2 separate regions of the Homo sapiens genome follow, and region 2 is linked to region 1. Evidence: fine-mapped expression QTL. Tissue or cell type: blood mononuclear cells. Region 1 holds a variant in brackets; the other region holds the start of a gene. Each region is shown on its reference strand, or each on the opposite one.

What was found. PIP is the estimated chance that this variant, and not a neighbour inherited with it, causes the effect.
Region 2: it holds the start of POP1, and the variant in region 1 is the best candidate, but not a certain one, in a credible set for the expression of POP1 in blood mononuclear cells (TOPMed, PIP 0.58).

What each region holds. Positions count from the first base shown.
Region 1 is chr14:20,288,071-20,292,464 of GRCh38, forward strand. TTC5 (tetratricopeptide repeat domain 5) reads right to left here. Exons shown (of 10, transcript NM_138376.3): 9 at 3,913-4,057; 10 at 1-1,676. The coding sequence ends at 1,557. Among named protein-coding and RNA genes, the nearest start is that of TTC5, 16 kb to the right of the region's middle. The variant T/A (reference allele first, on the strand shown) is at 2,225.
Region 2 is chr8:98,114,973-98,119,366 of GRCh38, forward strand. POP1 (POP1 ribonuclease P/MRP subunit) reads left to right here and starts at 2,321. Exons shown (of 16, transcript NM_001145860.2): 1 at 2,321-2,418. It overlaps RIDA (reactive intermediate imine deaminase A), which reads right to left and starts at 2,199. Exons shown (of 6, transcript NM_005836.3): 1 at 2,060-2,199. The coding sequence starts at 2,124. RefSeq lists enhancers at 2,304-2,353, 2,424-2,593.

The sequences.
Region 1 (4,394 bases):
TCATATATGATGTTGAAGCTATACCTGAGAATGTAAGCCTTTTTGGACCAAAAGAATGGACTGAAAATTTTATCTTATTAGACTCAGCCTTTATGACTTCTTAGATAGAGACAGATAGATAGATAGATAGATAGACAGATAGATAGATAAAACTTCTCTCATCAATGCATTTCTACCATCCATTCTCTGAGGAGGCCTCTGCACTCTTTATAAATTTAATGAGTCATCAATGATATTCAAGGCACTGATCAAAAACTGAACAGGACTGGACCAAGAACAAAGATCTGAGCCATTTCACTAGAAGACTTCTCAATTCATCTGTATACATTAATGTATTACAGCCATTCAGTTGTTGTTGCTGTTTGAGACGGAGTCTCGCTCTGTCGCCCATGCTGGAGTGCAGTGGCATGATATCGGCTCACTGCAACCTCCACTTCCCAGGTTCAAGCAATTCTCTGCCTCAGCCTCCCCAGTAGCTGTGATTACAGGTGCCTGCCACCACGCCCAGCTAATTTTTGTATTTTTAGTAGAGACGGAGTTTCACCATCTTGGCCAGGCTGATCTTGAACTCCTGACCTCGTGATCCACCCGCCTTGGACTCCCAAAGTGGTGGGATTACAGGCTGAGCCACCGTGCCAGGCCAATTCAATTGGTTATTAATCCTCACTCACATTTCTCCATTTTACCACAAGGATATTAAGATAAACTGTTATAAAACATGTCACTAGACTCTAAAGAAACTGAGGATTTATCTAACTCTCTCTGGTCCTTCAGCCTAGTAACACTATTAGAACAGTATTGCTCTGTCATCTTGGACCATAGTGAAGACCACCCCTAGGGAATGACAGAATGGGAAAATGGAAGAAAGCTGGTCTCTAGCAACTTTGTGGAGTTGCCATTCCTGCCTGGGGCTGTCTATTGTCGGAATTCTTTTAACTGGGAGAGAAATAAACTGCTTTGTATAAAGAAAAAAATGGGGGTATTACTCCAATAAATTGAAGTGATCCTAAAACAAAGAATACAGGCCTAGGGAGAATAAAGCAGGCCAAACTACGTGGTGTTTTTTTTTTTTTCCAAACAAATTTAATTCTGTTCCAGCCCCAAAGAAGAGGAAGGACCTAAAGTTCAAAAATAAAAATAAAAATTGCTAAAAATAAAAGCCATTACAAAATTAAGCCCCCTCCTTTAGCAATAAATACTGAACTGATATATACATATGAGGCTTAGGAAGGAGGCAACAACAGGAACCTTGGGGACTCTGTCCCATGGCAAGATCCCAAGACTTCTACCAATTCCATGCTCTTTGCTTAAAACATAGAGAGCAGTGGAAGAGACAGGAGAGATATGCCAGAAGAGTATGTGGCCCTGTAGAGAGCTGGAACATGATGAGGACAGAGGAGAGAGAAGAGATACGAAGTGTAATACAGGCAGGGAAAGAGAAAGTCTTCATTTAAAACATTCCTCCCATCCCTGCTGAATCACTGGATGTGGCTGGACCGGCTGTCCAGAGCCTTGTCTCCTCTCCTCCACTCCCTGTTGAGCATGCAAGTCAAAGGTCATTCACACTGTGGTCGCGATGCCACTGTGGCAACAGCCTGGCTGCTGGATCCCTGAGGCTTCCCATTCACCACTAGCAGGAGGGGCGTCTCCACTCGAACACTGGAAAAGGAATAGTCCTAGAAAAGACAGACAGACAAAGGTTCACTACAGATTCCAAGATGGAAAAAGCTCCAGCATGGGGATACACCACTTGCAACTTTCTGCACCACCTCCCCTGTTGTATACCCCCTCTACTTCCATCTCACATCAGACAAAACTGAGCTAACACAGGGGACGAAAATTTCCCAAAGTTTTCAATCTTCAGAAGGAAAACATGGAGCATGTAAGGTCATGTAGTGCCACTACAAGAATGAGACAGCTCTTTGATCCAAAAAAGGCAGGTTCCTGGCATTGCCTAACAAAAGAATGCAACCAACTCTCATAGAATCTGCCTTTTCCCACGGTGTTTCCTGATAATTAACTAGATACACATAGCAGCCGGCCAGAGCCAGTGGGAATCCTGAGAAAATCTCAGTCCAAATGTTTATAAGGTCCTAATTTAATCCACCAAATACAAATTAAAGTTACTTCTCTTTTATATCAAGAGGAGGAAATAGAACATGAAACAGAATGTAGCCGTTTTCCTAATAACAAAAAAGGTATCAGCTCACTGTATCAGTTTAAG[T/A]GTATTTTAAGTTGTAAAACATATTAAATAGTCTTCATCCAAAAAATATGGCAATGAGAGGCAGGCTCTTTTAAGTCCAAGTAAAGTAAATTTAAAAGTTCTCATAAACCAATTTTTTTTAAGTCTTCACAGAAATATCAACAAGTGACACAAAAAATGGCAATTTATACAAGAAATATAAATTAATATTCATGCTATATTTTCCATGTAAAATTAGAAAATAACTTTTCAAAGGTTTCCAACCAGAGTTGAGAAAAAAACTACAGAGAAACACTTATTTACATCCACTGTTGGTAGTGACAACTAACTAGTACAATTTTCCAAAGAATTATTTGGCAATATGTATCAAAAGCCTCAGAATTCTGCATACCCTTTGGACCCAGGAGTCTACATTAGAAATTCATTTAAGGAACTAATCATAGATACAAGCAAAGATACAAAAATCCTCACTGTGTTTCTAATTTTTTTTCTATTATAAAAGTACTAATTTAGATCGGAGGTCATCAAAGTATTTCTGCAAAGGGACAGATAGTAAATATTTTAGGCTTTGTAGGTCATATGGTCTCTGTTACAGAACAAGTCACCTCTGACACTATAGTGCAAAAACAGCCACAGACAATAGTAAGCAAATGAGTGTGGCTGTGTTCCAATAAAGCTTTATTTGTGGACACTGAAATCTGAATTTCCTGTAATTTTCACATATCACAAAATATTACGCTTCTGTCCATTTTTTTCACTTAACAACACAGAAACCACACTCTTGTTTTTCTTTTTTTTTTGAGGCAGACTTTCTCTATCACCCGGGCTGGCGTGCAATGGGACAATAATGGCTTACTGCAGCCTCAAACTCCTGAGATAAAGTGGTTCTCTCACTTCAGCCTCCTTAGTAGCTGGGACTACAGGCATGTGCTACCATACCTGGCTAAGTTTTTTAACATTTTTTTGTAGAGACGGGGTCTCACTATATAGCCCAGGCTGGTCTTAAACTCCTGGGCTCAAGTGATCCTCCCACCTTGGCCTTCCAAAGTGCTGGGATTTTACGCATGAGCCACCATGCCCAGCCTAGAAACCATTATTAATAAACACAAGCAGTGAGCCAGATTTGGTCAATGGGCTTTGCCAACCTCTGATCTAAATGGTTAAACAGTAGTTAAATATCTACATTCATAAGGTTTTTTTAAGAATTGAATGGGGCAAGGCAGGTAATAAAAACTCTTAGCACAGTGTCTAGCACTCAATTAAGTGTTAAATAAATGTTAACTATCATTACCATCTTCATCACCCCGTGTCTACTCAATGTGGTGAAATATGTAAAAACATAGGAAACATTCACAAACATTTGCATATAATATCCCACTCATGATTTAAAATATAGATATATGTGTATATATTTGTGAAAAGAAAAGACTTCAGGTATATACACCAAACTGTTAACAGTAACAGTTAAAAGGCAGTAATACCTGAGTGATAATATTTCACTGCATTTTTTTATTTTTCTGCTTACCAGTTTACCTTTTTAGTAAAAAAATACATATATATATATAAATAAAACATATACACACAAATATATATACACATAGCCTACACACATACTTACATATAATTATTTCTATATCTTTTATAAAAAGATAAGCTTGGTTCTACTTTTAGAGCCTACGAGTTGTAAGAGAATCCTAGCCATTGCTCACCTTTCCTTTGTGCTGAATTCGGTGAAGCCGCAGGTTGGGCTCAGGAATGGCTACAGAGTCTCCAATGAGCACTCCCCAGCTCTGCACTATATTGTACACCATCACTGCATAGCAAGGTCCATCTGAATCTACCAGGCCAAATGTACTACCAAGTAAAGACAGATTAGGAGAGAGGAAAACAAAAAGGTATGTGGGTAGGAAAGAAGAGCAGAAACAGTGGTTTAAAAATACTAGCAAAATACTGGACTTAAAGTCAGTGACAGGTAATTAAAATAAAATATAAAATTTAACTTAATTAAACTTTAAAAATAAAATACTAACAAAATAAACAAATGCTTTTTCTCAGTTACTCAGAAAACCTATGAGAGGTACCATCTTCCACTTTATATATCTGAGTCTTCATTTTTCTGAAACTCATCAGTCACTTTGCTAAGAACTTAGGACAAAGCACACTGAAGCCATTCAACAAATATTAATGATGA
Region 2 (4,394 bases), not on the chromosome of region 1:
TTTGTTACATCACTTTTTAGTGGTGTAACTTTTGGCAAATTATTTAATTTTGCACACATCAGTTTCTTCATCTGAAAAATAGGGACTATAATATAACCATGCACATAAATAACTTAGAACAGTGCCTGGTGCTGGCCAGGCATGGTGGCTGACACCTGTAATCCGAGTACTTTGGGAAGCCGAGGTAGGTGGATCGCTTTAGGTCAGGAGTTCAATACCAGCCTGACCAACACAGTGAAACCCTGTCTCTACTAAAAATACAAAAATTAGCCGGGTGTGGTGGCACCTGCCTGTAATCCCAGCTACTTGGGAGGCTGAGACATGAGAATCACTTGAATCTGTGGGGTGGAGGTTGCAGTGAGCTGAGATTGCACCACTGCACTCTAGCCTGGGCAACAGAGTGAGACTCTGCCTCCAAAAAAAAAAAAAAAAAAAAAAAAAAAGGGATAGTGCCCAATGCTGCTGAGTAAGCATCAGTAAATGTTAGCAATGATGACTCTACCCCGTTTGATTACATTAAGGAGAAAAAAAATCATCTTTAGAAAACAAATTAAAACATCACTTGAAAGTTTTTAATTAAACTTTTTTTTTTTTTTAAATAGAGATGGGGGTCTCACTATGTTGCCCAGGCTGGTCTTGAACTCCTGACCTCAAGCAATCCTCTTACCTCGGCCTCCCACAGTGCTGGGATTACAGGCGTGAACCACAGTACCCGGCTAAAGAAACATCACTCTTAACAAAGAGAGAGCAGGCCTCAGGTTTTGAGCCAACTGCAATATCTAGCTAAAATTTAATAATACCTTTTTTTAATTGAGTTTATTTTTTACTATTACTTTCTATTGAATTGTTTTCTATTTAGTGTACTGTTGTAAAGTTTCCTTTTTCAATTAACTTGTTAAATAAAATGAAGTGAGCCATCTCAAAGAAATAGGTTAAGTAAATTATAAGTGATATACAGATTTGGCAAACAAACAAACAAAAAAGACAGAAGTAGCACTTGAATTATGAAAACTTTCTCCCCAAAATCTTTATACCATGCATTCTTCTACCTCCATGCCCTCACTCAAGCCATTCCCTCTACCTGACTTCTACCTCCATGCCCTTCACTCAATGACTTCCTGTTGAAATCCTTAATAAATTAATTTAAAAATCAAACTTTACAACACTACTATAAATGACAAAACCAACCTTCAAAACCAAAGGACTACCTCTCACAAGGAACCTTCCTAAATCTTCTTTTTCCTCTTCCACCCCAAGTTAAAATCAATTTGTCTTTTTTCTCCTTTACTCCCTACCCCACTTGCCCTCTCACTTCTACTGCATTTTATTTATTTCCAAGTTTTCTATAATAATTCCTGTTCTGCCACATCTCAGTGCCTTTTCTCACAGCAGTAGGTTTAAAGGAGGGAGCTGTTGATGGGGCTCTTTTCAGTTGGGAGAGAGGCAGACCAAGTATGAAGCTAATGAAAGAAGTTGGTCATAAAGGACTGCATGTTTTATGATTCAATTTATAGGAAATGTCCACAACAAGCAAATCCATGAAGATGCAAGTAGATTGTCAGGGGCCGGGGGAGAGGAGAATGGGGAGTGAATGCTAATGGGGATGGGATTTATTTTTGGGGTGATGAAAATGTTCTGAAGAAAGTGGTGATGGCTGCACAACTCTGTGAGTATGGTCAAAACCACTGAATTGTACATGTTAAAGGGGGTGAATCTTACGGTACGTGAATTATATCTCAATAAAGCTGTTACCAAGAAAACAAAAACGACCCCCTCCCCCAAAACAAAACACAGGGTCTGAAGGCTTCTAACTGGGGAGAGCTTTCTGGCAGGCTGTGCTCCGCAGCGAGGCAGCCCCAGAACGAGCAAAGTCCCATGGAGTGCAGGTTCCTGGTCCCATCGTGGCTCCCAACTCTCTGTGGGTCTTCGGGCGCGTTGCTTACTTTCCAGGCTCAATTTCCTTGCGTGTTAGCTGGGGCTCCGGCCCGGAGTGGCCCCAACCCCGAATCCCCGAACCCGCACGCCCTGGGTCCGACACAGCTTCCACCAGCCACGTTACCTGTAGGGTCCAATGGCCCCTGGGGCTTTCGCGGTGCTGATCACCCTTCTGATCAAGGACGACATGGCTAAGCCTTCCCTCTTGCAGCCCCTTCAGGAGAAGAAGCCCCAGCACCAGCCCTGCTGGCTTCTTACTGGACTGACCAACCACAGCAGCGCCTCTGCCCCACAGCTCCCGCTGGGGGCGGGCTCGTGCGGCATTCTGGGAACTGTAGTTTCGGCGACGCTCCAGGCCACGTGGAGGAAGCGCCCGGTCTGGCGCATGCGCTCTCCAGCGCGCTCTCCAGGAGCTTTGGCTCGGTGGGTACTGTCGCGGAGGCTTGTCATTCTGACCCGGGGATTCCTCACAGCGTCTGGCAGGTTGGTCGTGAGGGGCTGGTGCCTTCCAGGATGCGAGTGTCGGGGGAACTGTATGCGGCGGCCCCCCTCCCGGCGCCCGTCTCCCCTCTTCATCGTTTCTCTCTCAGACTCCGCTGACCTCTTTCCTTGCTGCCTGTGCCCGGGGCCCCTCTCCCTGGTGTCGCATCTCCTTCGGCCCCTGCGCTGGAGCCCCCTACGTCAGTCATTTCCCTTCATTGCCCCGCCGGGTGGAGGCCGTCCTGGGAATGGGCTTGCATCCCCTCTTCTGCAACCCCAAATGACTAATATGGGTCATTCTGGCGACCACGCTGAGATCTGGGCGTTGGTCCTCCCGTGTTCCCTTTCCTGCTCCTCCTGTGTTCCCTTCTCTAGGGTGCTCCTCGGGCTTTACAAGGTCACTGTCTGAACAGAGCCCTAGTGATTGGGATATCATTTCAGAAAGAAAGATGGTGATCTGGAATGGCCCAGATCCCTTGTAAGTATTCTGCTGTGTCAGAAGGGGTGGTACTTGGCTAAATATTTCTTATCCTGTTAATATTTGCATTGTAAGTACGCTTCGTTTCTTCATTTATGCGGGCACTCATAGATATATGAGTCCCTACTTTGTGTAAGGCACTCTGCTAGATGCTAGGAGGAATGCAACAGTTAAAAAAAATAATAATAAAATCTCTGCCTTCCCTGCTTCCTAAAGATAATACAAGAAAATCTGCTTTATTCCCTCTCATTTTGTCCTACATACTGCTAAGGTTTTGGCCTTCCTACTTCCGGCTCAGGAACCTTCTGATCTTTTTCATTGGTTTGGGGCCTGGAATAAAAGACCTTTCAGTCTGGCCTCCCCTTGCCTATTCAAGTTTCATTGTCATCTACTCCCTTTTCCCACTAGAGTCCTCCTGTATTCACACTGTGGATTCCTGAATACTCTTTCTTCCTTATCTGTGCAAATTCCAGCTAACTGAAATTCTATTTTCTCTTTGACTTTTCCTACCAATTCACATTTTTTTCTTTTTCTTCTTTCCTTCCTTTCCTTTTCTTTTTCTTTGTTTTCTTTCTTTCAAGACAGGATCTCACTCTGTCACCCTGGCTGGAGTACAGTGGCATGATCTTGGCTCACTGAAACCTTGACCTCCTGGGCTGAAGCAATCCTCCAGCCTGAGCATCTCAAGTAGTTGGGATTACAAGTGCACACCAGCACGCCCGGCTAATTTTTGTATTTTCTGTGGAGACGGGGCTTCTTCATATTGGCCAGGCTGGTCTCCAACTCTTGGGCTCAAGCAATTCTCCCACCTCAGCCTCCCAAAGTGCAGGGATTACAGGTGTAACCATTATGCCCGGCCTCATTTTTTTTCTTTCCCTTGTCCTGTTTCCTATTGTGCTGTACCGCATAATTTAGTATTTTATTATATGAGATCCTATTTTCTAATTGTTATGTGTTTCAAGAATAGTGGATTGGAGAGGGAAGGGGTGGAAAAAAAAAAAAGAATAGTGGATAGAGTCAGACTGCCTGGTTTGAATCTCAGCACAATCACAAGCTTAGTAGCCTTGGACTGGTATATAAAATCTCTGTGCTTCGATTTCTTCATTTATAAGATGAGAATAATACTAGTGACCACAGAGTTGTGAGAATTAAATGAATAAGTCATGTAGAATAGTGCCTGCCACATCAAGTTCTCAATGCTGCCTAAGATGACAAAATTCTTATTCTACTTTGGAATTATACACAGCCTGAAACTATTGGGCACATAGTAGGTGCCCAAAAGTTTATTAAATCTGATTAAACTAGATAATTAAGACATATTTTTATTTACAAAATAATTCACCATTTAAGTTTTTAAATAAGAAGCTATTTTGGAGCATTACAAATGATTCAACTTGTGTAAAATATTTCTTGTGAAACAAGGTACCTTTATTCTTAAGACAGATTTTATATCAAGTCTGAATCACCAACTTTTTAGATCTGGAAGAAAATAGACATCATC